Regions from separate parts of the Homo sapiens genome. Here region 1 is linked to region 2. Evidence: fine-mapped expression QTL. A gene starts in region 2. The other region holds a variant in brackets. All regions are shown on one strand. Distances are between the middles of the regions.

Region 1 (5,372 bases), 22 kb before region 2:
TATATATATATATGATGATATCATACCATAATGCAGCTTGATTTTTTTCCACCTAAACCTATACTGGGAATAGTTTCATAAAATAGATTTATGCTATTCTTTCATGAAGCAGCATGAATTCAATTGCATAGACATTGGTGTATTCTTAGTTCTACCTTCTTTCTGCCATTACACACCAGTTGGAATGGATCATCAATGTGTGGGAGAAAGCAACAGGGGAGTTGAAAAGTTTCCCTGCCAAAACAATGTGCCTGAAGGCAGAGATGAGAGGAAAAGTGAAGAGAAAGGGAGGCGGTCACAATGGATATCTAGGGTAAGAGAGTGTTCTGGAAAGTCTGGCATGCCTTTAGGATTCCAGCTCCCTACCCAAAGAAATCTGAGATGCTTTTGTGGATCTGAAAGACTTCATGATAAAGAAAGAAAAATCTGGGACATTACTATATATCTCCCTTTATTTTCTTCTGTCCTATTTCAGCTTCTTGTGATTTTTTTAAAAAGCTTATTTTAGAAAGATAAAACTGCTAGAAAAATAATGCACCGTGTCCATAGGAAAAGGCAAGTAGCTTTTGTAGATGCCTGTTGTGTAAGATGCTTACAAGCACAGACACAATAGCCCCCTGTGAGGCAGATACTACGTGCATTATTTCCATGCATCAGTGCACTTGATGAGAGGTAGAAAAGGAGCCCAGGCCACCTGGGTTTGAATGCTAGCTCTCCCTCATACTAGTTGGATGGCCTTGGGCAAGTTTTGGCACCTCTCTGAACCTCAGTTTCCTCTTCTGTAAAACGAGGATGATAAAAGTGAGGTGACAACGTGCTAGCAGCCCTCGCTCGCTCTTGGCGCCTCCTTGGCCTCGGCGTCCACTCTGGCGGTGCTTCAGGAGCCCTTCAGCCCGCCGCTGCACTGTGGGAGCCCCTTTCTGGGTTGCCCGAGGCCGGAACCAGCTCCCTCTGCTTGCAGGGAGGTGTGGAGGGAGAATCGCGGGCGGGAACCGGGGCTGGGTGCCGCTCGCTGGACAGCGTGAGTTCCGGGTGGGGGTGGGCTCCGCACTCGGAGCTCCGGCCAGCGCCGCCAGCCCCGGGCAGTGAGGGGCTCAGCACCTGGGCCAGCGGCTGCGGAGGGTTCACCGGGTGCCACAGCACTGCCGGCCCGTCCGCGCCACACTCGAATTCTCACCGCGCCTCAGCTGCCTCCCCACGCGGCAGGGCTTAGGACCTGCAGCTGCCATGCCTCCCCTCCGCCCCCCCCGCCACCAGTGGGCTTCCGCGCAGCCCCAGCGTCCCCAAAGGGCCCCGCCCATCGACCGCCCAAGGGCTGAGAAGGGTGGGTGCGTGGCTTGGGACTGGCAGGCAGCTCCGCAGGCGGCATCCACTAGGCGAAGGCAGCAGGGTTCCTGAGTTGGGTCGGCACTTGGAAAACTTTTATGTCTAGCTAAAGGATTGTAAACACACCAATCAGCACTCTGTCTAGCTCAAGGTGTGTAAACGCACCAATCAGCACCCTGTCAAAATGGACCAATCAGCTCTCTGTTAAGTGGACCAATCAGCAGGATGTGGGTGGGGTCAGATAAGGGAATAAAAAGCTGCGTGGGCTAACAGCGATAACCCTTTTGGGTTCTTTTTGGAAAGTTTGTTGTCTTGCTTTTTGGGCTAAAGTTTTGCTGCTGCTTGCTCTAGCTCTATGTTACCTTTGTGAGCTATAACATGGTGCGAAAGTCTGCAGCTTTACTCCTGAAGCTGCCGAGACCGTGAACCCACTGGGAGTGATGAACGATTCCGGATGCGCCACCTGTAACAGCTGTAGCACTCACTGTGAAGGTCTGTAATTTCACTCCTGAGGCCAGCGAGACCACAAACCCACGTGAAGGAATGAACAATTCCAGCCACGCTGCGTTTAAGAGCTGTAACATTTACCGTGAAGGTCTGCAACTTCACTCCTTAAGTCAGCGAGACCACAAACCCACCAAAAGGAAGAAACTCCAGACACATCTGAACATGTGAAGGAACAAACTCCGGACACACCATCTTTAAGAGGTGTAACACTCACCTCGAGGGTTCGCAGCTTCGTTCTTGAAGTCAGTGAGACCAAGAACCCACCAATTTCCAGATCCAAAATACCCCATGGTGTGGTGGTGGGCTGCAATAAGCGTTAATGTATTAAGCACTCACAGTGAGGCCCAGTACTCCATAAGCTCTCCAGAAGGCAGAGTTGTGTGGGGTGAGCTCAGACTGAAAGGCCCAGTCTGGAAGACTAGGTATGCCACTTGGGAGTGCTGAAATCTTAGATAAGGTACCTTAATTAAGCCTTGGGTTTTTTTACCTGTACATTGGAATAACAATAATATCTACCTTCCAAGGCTGTTCGAAATACCAAATACAAAATGTACAGGCACATAAATAATGCATTTAGGAACTGCCTTGCAAAGCCATTGAGAATATTAAGTGCAATCGTGTGTAAAATGTGTAACTCAGTCCTCATAGTAAGCAGTTGTGTTTTTAGCCATTCTCATTACCAAAAGAATCAGACTGCCTAAGAATTGCTTCGTTGCATCTGTATGTTGGTCTTTCCAGCCCTTTGTTAAAGCTTCAGCAGGGACACGGCGGTAGCTGTGGAAGAAAAAGAAGTGAGAGCCGCTTGTGTCTGAGGGTCCCTTGGGAAGGTCTCAGCTGCCCGGTAGAAATGACAGTAGTTCCTCAACTGTTGTTGTCTGATACGGAATACAGCGGGCTAGGCCTTCAAGCCAGCTGACCTAGTTCATGGCCTGGTTCAGCCTTTCACTAGCTGTGGAGAAGAACTCTGGGCAAGTTCTTCCAGCTCT[G/C]TCTTAGTGTCCTAATTTTAAGAAGAGGACGCGAGAGTGCCTACCTCACAGGGTTGTAGTGAGTGCTCAGTGAGCTAATACATGTGGGTCATAACGAGTGCTCCATACTTGCTACCTCTTACTACCAGAGCCATTGAGTGGTCAACGGTACCCACCTCCAACTGCTGCAAAATGATGAAAACAAATTCTCCAGTGCTGAGTCCCAGGTTTGCTGCAGCCAGAAGAATAATTTTTGCATCCTCTGAGCTGCACGTTAAGATGATAACTATAAGAATGAAAACCAGAGTCCGCCAGTTGCACATGCTTGTGTATGTGTGCTTTCTCACGCATGCTCTCACTCTAAGTCTGGCCTAAAGTCACTGTAAATGAGACGTGAACTTTTTCTTTCCTTGGGCATGCCTTAAGAAACAGGAATGCCTAAACTAGTCCCTGAGTTTTTACATTCTTTAACCAAACCTGAAGTGTACAAACTAGCAGTTATAGCACTGAAGTCTTTGCTGCAGCCTCCCCACAATGTACAAGTGAAAAAAGTTTGGGATCACCTCTGTGCTCTAGGTTTTTTTTTTCTTTTTGGCTCAAAAATCAGAACAGCAGACCTGGCTTGTGACTTGTCAGCCACACTTCAGCTAAGAGGAGTTCACAGAGGACCTTTGGACATGTGGACTTTCAAGGGCATTTGGACTTTCTGAGTTGGGCTGGCCGGAGGGAGGAGTAGGCCATGGTACTTTTCTGCCGTTTAATCCCATCACCGTTCATTTTCAGAATACACAAATGAAGTAGTGGGTTTTATTTTTTATTTATTTATTTTTGAGACAGAGTCTGCTGTATTGACCAGGCTGCATGGAGTACAATGGTACAATCTCGGCTCACTGCAACCTCCGCCTCCTGGGTTCAAGCAATTCTTATGTCTCAGCCTCCAGGACAGCTGGGATTACAGGCATGCACCATCACACCTGGCTAATTTTTGTATTTTTAGTAGGGACAGCATTTCACCATGTTGACTAGGCTGGTCTCCAACTCCTGGCCTTGAATGATCTGCCCACCTCAGCCTCCCAAAGTGCTGGGATTACAGGCGTGCGCCAACGCACCCAGCTAGTTTTTTAAATGAAGTAATTTATAGTCTATTTATCTGAGCTCCAATTATGTGTCAGGCACTTTGCTGGGCACAGACATAGCAGTGAACGAGCCAGCAGACAGCATACAAGTGGACAGATTAAAGAGATCATTGAAGATTCTAATTAGTGAGGTTGGAAACGGATGCTGTGATGCTAATGGGTGGGGAGGGGAAACAGCTTCACATCAAGTGGTTAGAGAAGGCCTTCCTGAGGAGGTGGGCTCTGGACCCAGTCGGCAAGGATGCAAGGATGAGAGGACGCTACCCTTAAGAAGGTGCTGGGTAGGGTGGAATGTGACTGAGACCACATAACAATTGCCTCATTGGATCAGTGTTGGTCTTTCAAGCCCTTTATTAGAGATTCAACAGGGACACAGGGAGGTAGCTGTGGAAGAAAAACAAGTGAGAGCCACTTGTGCCTTAGAGTCCCACATTAGCATCACTGGTTGGAGTGGGTGCAGGTGACACCCTAGGCCAAGGGAGTAGAAAACCCTAAAGTCTCAGGGCTGGAGAGAGTTCAGTTTATTTGAGGAACAGAAAGGAGTCAGTTACTAATTCATGCTAGAAAGTTGAGCCTTATAGGCATCACCACAAAAATAATTGCTGTCATATGTTGACCAACTACTTGTCCAGACATGGTGCTAAGCACTTTACAGGCATAACCTTATTTAATCCTCCCCTTTCTGTGACATAGGTAGGATGGTTGTCTCCATTTTATAGAAAAGATATTTGAGATACAGAGAGATTAAGGTACTTACCCAAGGAGGACACAGCTAAAATGTCAGAGACTGGATTCAAACCTAGGTCTGTCAATCTGCAGAGCCCATGCTGTAAACAAATAGTGAAGTCCAGGACCCAGCCCACCTGTAAGATGCTTCTAGAACTTGCGCTGTGTATCATAACACTGTAGCATGTGGGGTTTTACTTTAGACCAAAAAAAAAAACCCACAATTTTTTGTTAGTGATGTCAAGCAATAAAGGAAGTTGCTTTTATATATTATTAATTTTGTACCTTGTTTCCATCTGCTTTTACACTCATAGAAAAGTGAAGAGTTTTTTGGGTTGTTTTTTTTTTTTTCAAATCTGCTTGTCCCATTTTTCTCTCCAAATAAAAGCAACAGAAGACTTTTCTACTTACCCCTGGCAATTGATGATATCCTCCAAAGATGCTCTTGAAGAAGGACTAGACTATTGTTGGTGTATCTCATGCTGGCAGTGATGATAAAATGGGATTTGAGTTCATTCTCTACAACCCTCCACAGTTCATCCACTCCATCCCAGGAGGAAGCCCCAGAGTAGCCTCCAAACATCCCAATGTGTTTCCAGCCCAGGTACTGGAGACTTTCCTGGAGCACATCACCAATGTCCTGCTTGGGTGACACAAGTTTCACACAGGTGTCAGACAGTTTTGTGGTTTGTCCAACAAAGTCAAACATGGG
Region 2 (5,372 bases):
GTTCCCTTCCATGCTGTGGAAGCTTTGTTCTTTCGCTCTTTGCAATAAATCTTGCTACTGCTCACTCTTTGGGTCTACACTGCCTTTATGAGCTGTAACACTCACCACGAAGGTCTGCAGCTTCACTCCTGAAGCCAACAAGACCACGAACCCACCGGGAGGAACAAACAACTCCAGACGCCCCACCTTAAGGGCTGTAACACTCACCGCGAAGGTCCACAGCTTCACTCCTGAGCCAGTGAGATCACGAACCCACCAGAAGGAAGAAACTCCAAACACATCCGAACATCAGAAGGAACAAACTCCGGACACGCTGCCTTTAAGAACTGTAACACTCACCGCCAGGGTGTGCAGCTTCATTCTTGAAGTCAGTGAGACCAAGAACCCACCAATTCCAGACACACAAAGGCTGAGGAGTGTGGGCACACGGTGTGGGACTGGCAGCCAGCTCCACCTGTGGCCACGGTGCGGGATCGACTGGGTGAAGCCAGCTGGCCTCCTGAGTCTGGTGGGGACTTGGAGAACCTTTATGTCTAGCTAAGGGATTATAAATACACCAATCGGCACTCAGTATTTGGCTCAAGGTTTGGAAACACACCAATCAGCACCCTGTGTCTAGCTCAGGGTTTGTGAATGCACCAATGGACACTCTGTATCTAGCTACTCTGGTGGGGACTTGGAGAACCTTTATGTCTAGCTAAGGGATTGTAAATACACCAATGGGCACTCTGTATCTAGCTCAAGGTTTGTAAACACACCAATCAGCCCCCCGTGTCTAGCTCAGGGTTTGTGAATGCACCAATTGACACTCTGTATCTAGCTACTCTGGTAGGGACTTGGGTAACCTTTATGTCTAGCTAAGGGATTGTAAATACACCAATTGGCACTCTGTGTCTAGCTCAAGGTTTGTAAACCATTCAGCACCCTGGTCTAGCTCAGGGTTTGTGAATGCACCAATCGACACTCTGGATCTAGCTAATCTAGTGGGGACATGGAAAACTTTTGTGTCAACACTCTGTATCTAGCTAATCTAGTGGGGACATGGCGAACTTTTGTGTCTAGCTCAGGGATTGTAAACACACCAATCAGCACCCTGTCAAAACGGACCAATCAGCTCTCTGTAAAACAGACCAATCGGCTCTCTGTAAAATGGACCAATCAGTAGGATGTGGGTGGGGCCAGATAAAAGAATAAAAGCAGGCTGTCCGAGCCCGGAGTGGCAACCACCTGGGGTTCTTTTCACACTGTGGAAGGTTTGTTCTTTAGCTCTTTGCAATAAATCTTGCTACTGCTCACTCTTTGGGTCTACGCTGCTTTTATGAGCTGTAATGCTCACTGCAAAGGTCTGTAGCTTTACTCCTGAGCCAGCAAGACCACAAACCCACCAGAAGGAAGAAACTCTGAACACATCTGAACATCAGAAGGAACAAACTCTAGACACACCGCCTTTAAGAACTGTAACACTCACTGCGAGGGTCCGCGGCTTCATTCTGGTAGCTAAACATACACAGATCAATGGGGCAGCATAGGGGCCAAGGCACTGCAGGGGTTCTCATGACTCTGAGTCAGGTGCTGTCTTGACCGACTGGTTGTGTGATTCCAGAAGCCTTCTTTCACCTGAAAAGGCCTCACTGGCCTCACCTATACAGTAAGTTTGCACATCATCTCCAGGGTTTCTTTCATTTCTACCCACTGTTTTTGTTTAGTAATGATGCCTTGCAGTCCTAATGATCTTGGAATCAAGAATGGTGACTAGAGAACTTCAAAGTGGAAAGAGAGGCTGGGCATGGTGGCTCATGCCTATAATCCCAGCACTTCGGGAGGCCGAGGCAGGCAGATCACTTGAAGTCAGGAGTTCGAGACCAGCCTGGCCAACATGGTGAAACCCTGTCTCTGCTAAAAATACAAAAAAAAAAAAAAAAATTAGCCAGGCATTGTGGTGCATGCCTGTAATCCCAGCCACTCCAGAGGCTGAGGCAGGAGAATTGCTTGAACTCAGGAAGTGGAGGTTGCGGTGAGACTCCGTCTCAAAAAAAAAAAAAAAAAAAAAAAAGGAGAGAGTAGGATGGCTGAGCCATGACGCAGTAGCAATGCTTCTTTTTTTTTTTTTTTTTTTGAGACAGAGTCTCGCTGTGTCGCCCAGGCTGGAGTGCAGTGGCGCGATCTTGGCTCACTGCAAGCTCCACCTCCCGGGTTCACACCATTCTCCTGCCTCAGCCTCCCAAGTAGCTGGGACTACAGGGGCCCACCACCACGCCCGGCTAATTTTTTGTGTATTCAGTAGAGACGGGGTTTCACCGTGTTAGCCAGGAAGCAATGCTTCCTATTCTAGCGCCTTGCTAAACTATGTGTGCTGCAGACTGTGTTCGTGATTCCGAATCCTAAAAACAACCGTCCTAGGCTTGTCTCTCAGCCTAGACTCTAGACTGATTTGGCTCATTTGGTTGTCTTGGAGACGTTCTAATTCTGAAGGGGGCAGTGGTCCCTTCTAGAAGATAGCTGGTCTGCAAATGCACACCTCTGCTTAGTCTGAATCCTAAAGTTATAGCTTGAGCCAATTAAAGTGGCTTCTCATTTTTCTCTCACTCTGATCTCAAGGAGCCCTTTTTCTTCTAGTAATCTAGACCTTCCTCTTCCTATCACAGTCTCAAGGATTGTGCCCCCAAAGCAGATGCAAAGCCCTGTCTACCCCTTCTCCTTCCCCTGAGGTAGAGCTTTATCGAAGGTTTCTCTTGGTAAACGTTAGCTTTCTGAACTAAGGGCCGTCTTTTTTTTTTTTCCCGCTTAAGCCCATTGCATAACAATCTCTTGTTTTAATCTTTTGCCCAACACTGCTTTTCTTACTGTCAGAGGTTACTACAAGTGTTTGAACAGGTAACTTCTACCTTTGAACTTCTGTTGTGACAGATTCAAAGGTTCCAGGGGAGTGTGTTGGCCACTCTCAGGACAGTACACAGTAGCTTCGGGTGTGTCCCAGTCAGTCCTAGGAGCTGTGGAAAGAGTAGAAGTGCCTGAATGTGGTGCTGAATCAATACAGCCAGCTGTGAGGGGAGCACTTCCTGGACCCAGGAAGGGAGAGTCTTCTTCCAAGGTAAGCTGCAATGATACTACCTGCACTATATTGAATATATCTGTGAGATAGTAGGGAGGGGATTGGTGTGGGGAAAGAAAGTGGGATTTGTTATGCTCAACCTAAGGCTCTTTAATAACATGAAATTACATTTAGTTGAATAGTAATCTCAGCTGACTTGTGTGGGAGGCAAAGAAAAAAATCAGTTGGAAAAGGGGTGGAGATATATGAGCTATCCAAATGCTAGCAGGGGATGGAATTGGAAGGGAACACTGATTTTGGTAAGTGTACTAAAGCACACCAAGCCAGAATGTGGGTCTCCTTCATCTTCCATTAAGAAATTTCTGTCTCAGTGTAGTTAGAAGGATCGTGCGTCAGCTGCTGAGGGCAGAGAGTCCCATTTGGCAGACAGAGAGGAAGGGAATCAGCAGATATTCGATTAGGTGCTGGGGACTGTTCTGGGTAGATTATGTATGTTACTTCATTGGTGTATCTCATCCTATAAAGCAGGTGGTATCCTTCCCATTTCACAGAGGCATAGTGCGTCTCCAGGCTGTTAAACAGCATGGCCTAAGCTACATAGCTCCAAGGTGGTGTGGCTAGAATTTGAGACTTGATTGGTCAGTTTCCACAGCCTGCCCAATAATGCAGAATTGTTGTGGGTTGCCAAAGCTTTCAGTTACCCCCTGAAATCCTGAGGGTGTCACTCATGTGCACAGAGGATTGATAGGAATACAACTCTGATGGGCCTTTAGAATGACTCAACCTTCCTGAACTTGAGCATTTTTACTGGAGGAGGTCAATAAAAAAAAAAGAAATAAAACCTCATCTTCCCCTGGCCCTGAGCCCTTTGGTGAAGGAAGACAGCACCCGGTGAAGGGCTCAGAGGTATTAGTGTGGCTGAGATTCGACACCCACTCTGCCATCCTCTGCTCTCCTCTAGAGGAAGTTGCCTCTTGGGGAGCTGAGTTCCTGAAACTAAGCAAATGACAAGTGCTCCTCCAGCCGTGAGATGAGCCAGAGGATGGAATGCCACAGGCCCCACTTCGTCTCCCAGCCCTTCATCTTTCTTCCATGTCCAAAGGCGGCTCCCCAGAGGCCAAGGGCTCAGCTCTTGTGTTCTCTGAGACTGTGGCACAGCTCACCCTGGCTTCCTTAGTAGGAAGCTTTTAAGAACTGCTCTGTAGAAAGAACAAACCCTAATCTAGCTCCAGCAAAGAGCCAGGATCATGCTGAACTTCCTGTGAGCCTTCGTGGGGGATCGAGGCTGGAGAAAGTGCTGCTTCATTCTGAGGTATCTGTGAGGTGGGGAAGGGGCAGGAAAATTTGTCATTTCGGCTTCCTAATCTGAGAATGGTAGCTCCAGGGCCCCCCTGTAGCCACAGCCTTAGGCGGATCAAAAATGAGACTAATACAGGTCCTGGTAATACTGGGGGTGACCAAGGCGAAAGAATCGATTTTTAAGTTAAGTTTTGAGGTGTGACTGTATCAGAGGGAAAGAAACCATGCCAATTGAACGACTCACAGCCCTGTCGTTCCTGACTTGCTTATTTTCTTGGCTTTGCCAGAACTTCTTCAGAGACCAAGGCAGGCAGCTCTGGCGACTGGAGAGAGGCGGGGTAGAAGGTGTTTGTGTGGGTCTGAGGGCTGAGGTACCCTCTAGCCAGACTTTCCTGTCCTCCGAATCCAGCAGGGAACAGCGTCACCTCTGCCTCTGTGAGGCTTCTGATCTGAGGGGGCACCTCAAGTCATTTTAGTTTGTTTGTTTTCATCTTAGTTGAAAGATGATAGGCCACAGGAGGGCAGGGTCAACTGTGTTGAGGCAAGCTGGCTTTTGTGTCGGCCCTTAGGGGCTGAGGTGAAAGGCTTTGACACGGAGCCAGGGTAGCTTTGGCAGCTTCTCCCCTCCTGGTCAGAACACTTCCACTTTCAGTTGTGAAAAAAAAAATTAAAACCAGGAAGTGAAGTCCCCGAGCACGTTAGAAAGCCTGACATGGCCTGACTCGGGACAGCTCAGAGCAGGGCAGAACTGGGGACACTCTGGGCCGGCCTTCTGCCTGCATGGACGCTCTGAAGCCACCCTGTCTCTGGAGGAACCACGAGCGAGGGAAGAAGGACAGGGACTCGTGTGGCAGGAAGAACTCAGAGCCGGGAAGCCCCCATTCACTAGAAGCACTGAGAGATGCGGCCCCCTCGCAGGGTAAGGGGACCATCGAGGGGGTGTTATTCAGCAAGGGGGTCTTGTGAGGGTGTGACAGAGGCCAAGGGGGCATCCTGACCCCCGACTTTCTTTAAGCGACTT

Alleles and levels. Positions count from the first base shown, and alleles are read on the strand shown. Sizes are in standard deviations (SD) of each study's normalised expression.
For the expression in whole blood of the gene that starts at base 2,938 in region 2, C is the low allele of the variant in region 1 and G is the other (moderate effect, 0.49 SD a copy in TwinsUK).

Evidence for each region. PIP is the estimated chance that this variant, and not a neighbour inherited with it, causes the effect.
Region 1: its variant is the best candidate, but not a certain one, in a credible set for the expression of ACSL5 in whole blood (TwinsUK, PIP 0.64).

The regions. Positions count from the first base shown.
Region 1 is chr10:112,348,771-112,354,142 of GRCh38, forward strand. It overlaps the pseudogene GUCY2GP. Among named protein-coding and RNA genes, the nearest start is that of ACSL5, 23 kb to the right of the region's middle. The variant G/C (reference allele first, on the strand shown) is at 2,820.
Region 2 is chr10:112,371,179-112,376,550 of GRCh38, forward strand. ACSL5 (acyl-CoA synthetase long chain family member 5) reads left to right here and starts at 2,938. Exons shown (of 21, transcript NM_203379.2): 1 at 2,938-3,091. RefSeq lists enhancers at 4,639-4,788, 4,670-5,170, 4,929-5,148, 5,171-5,372.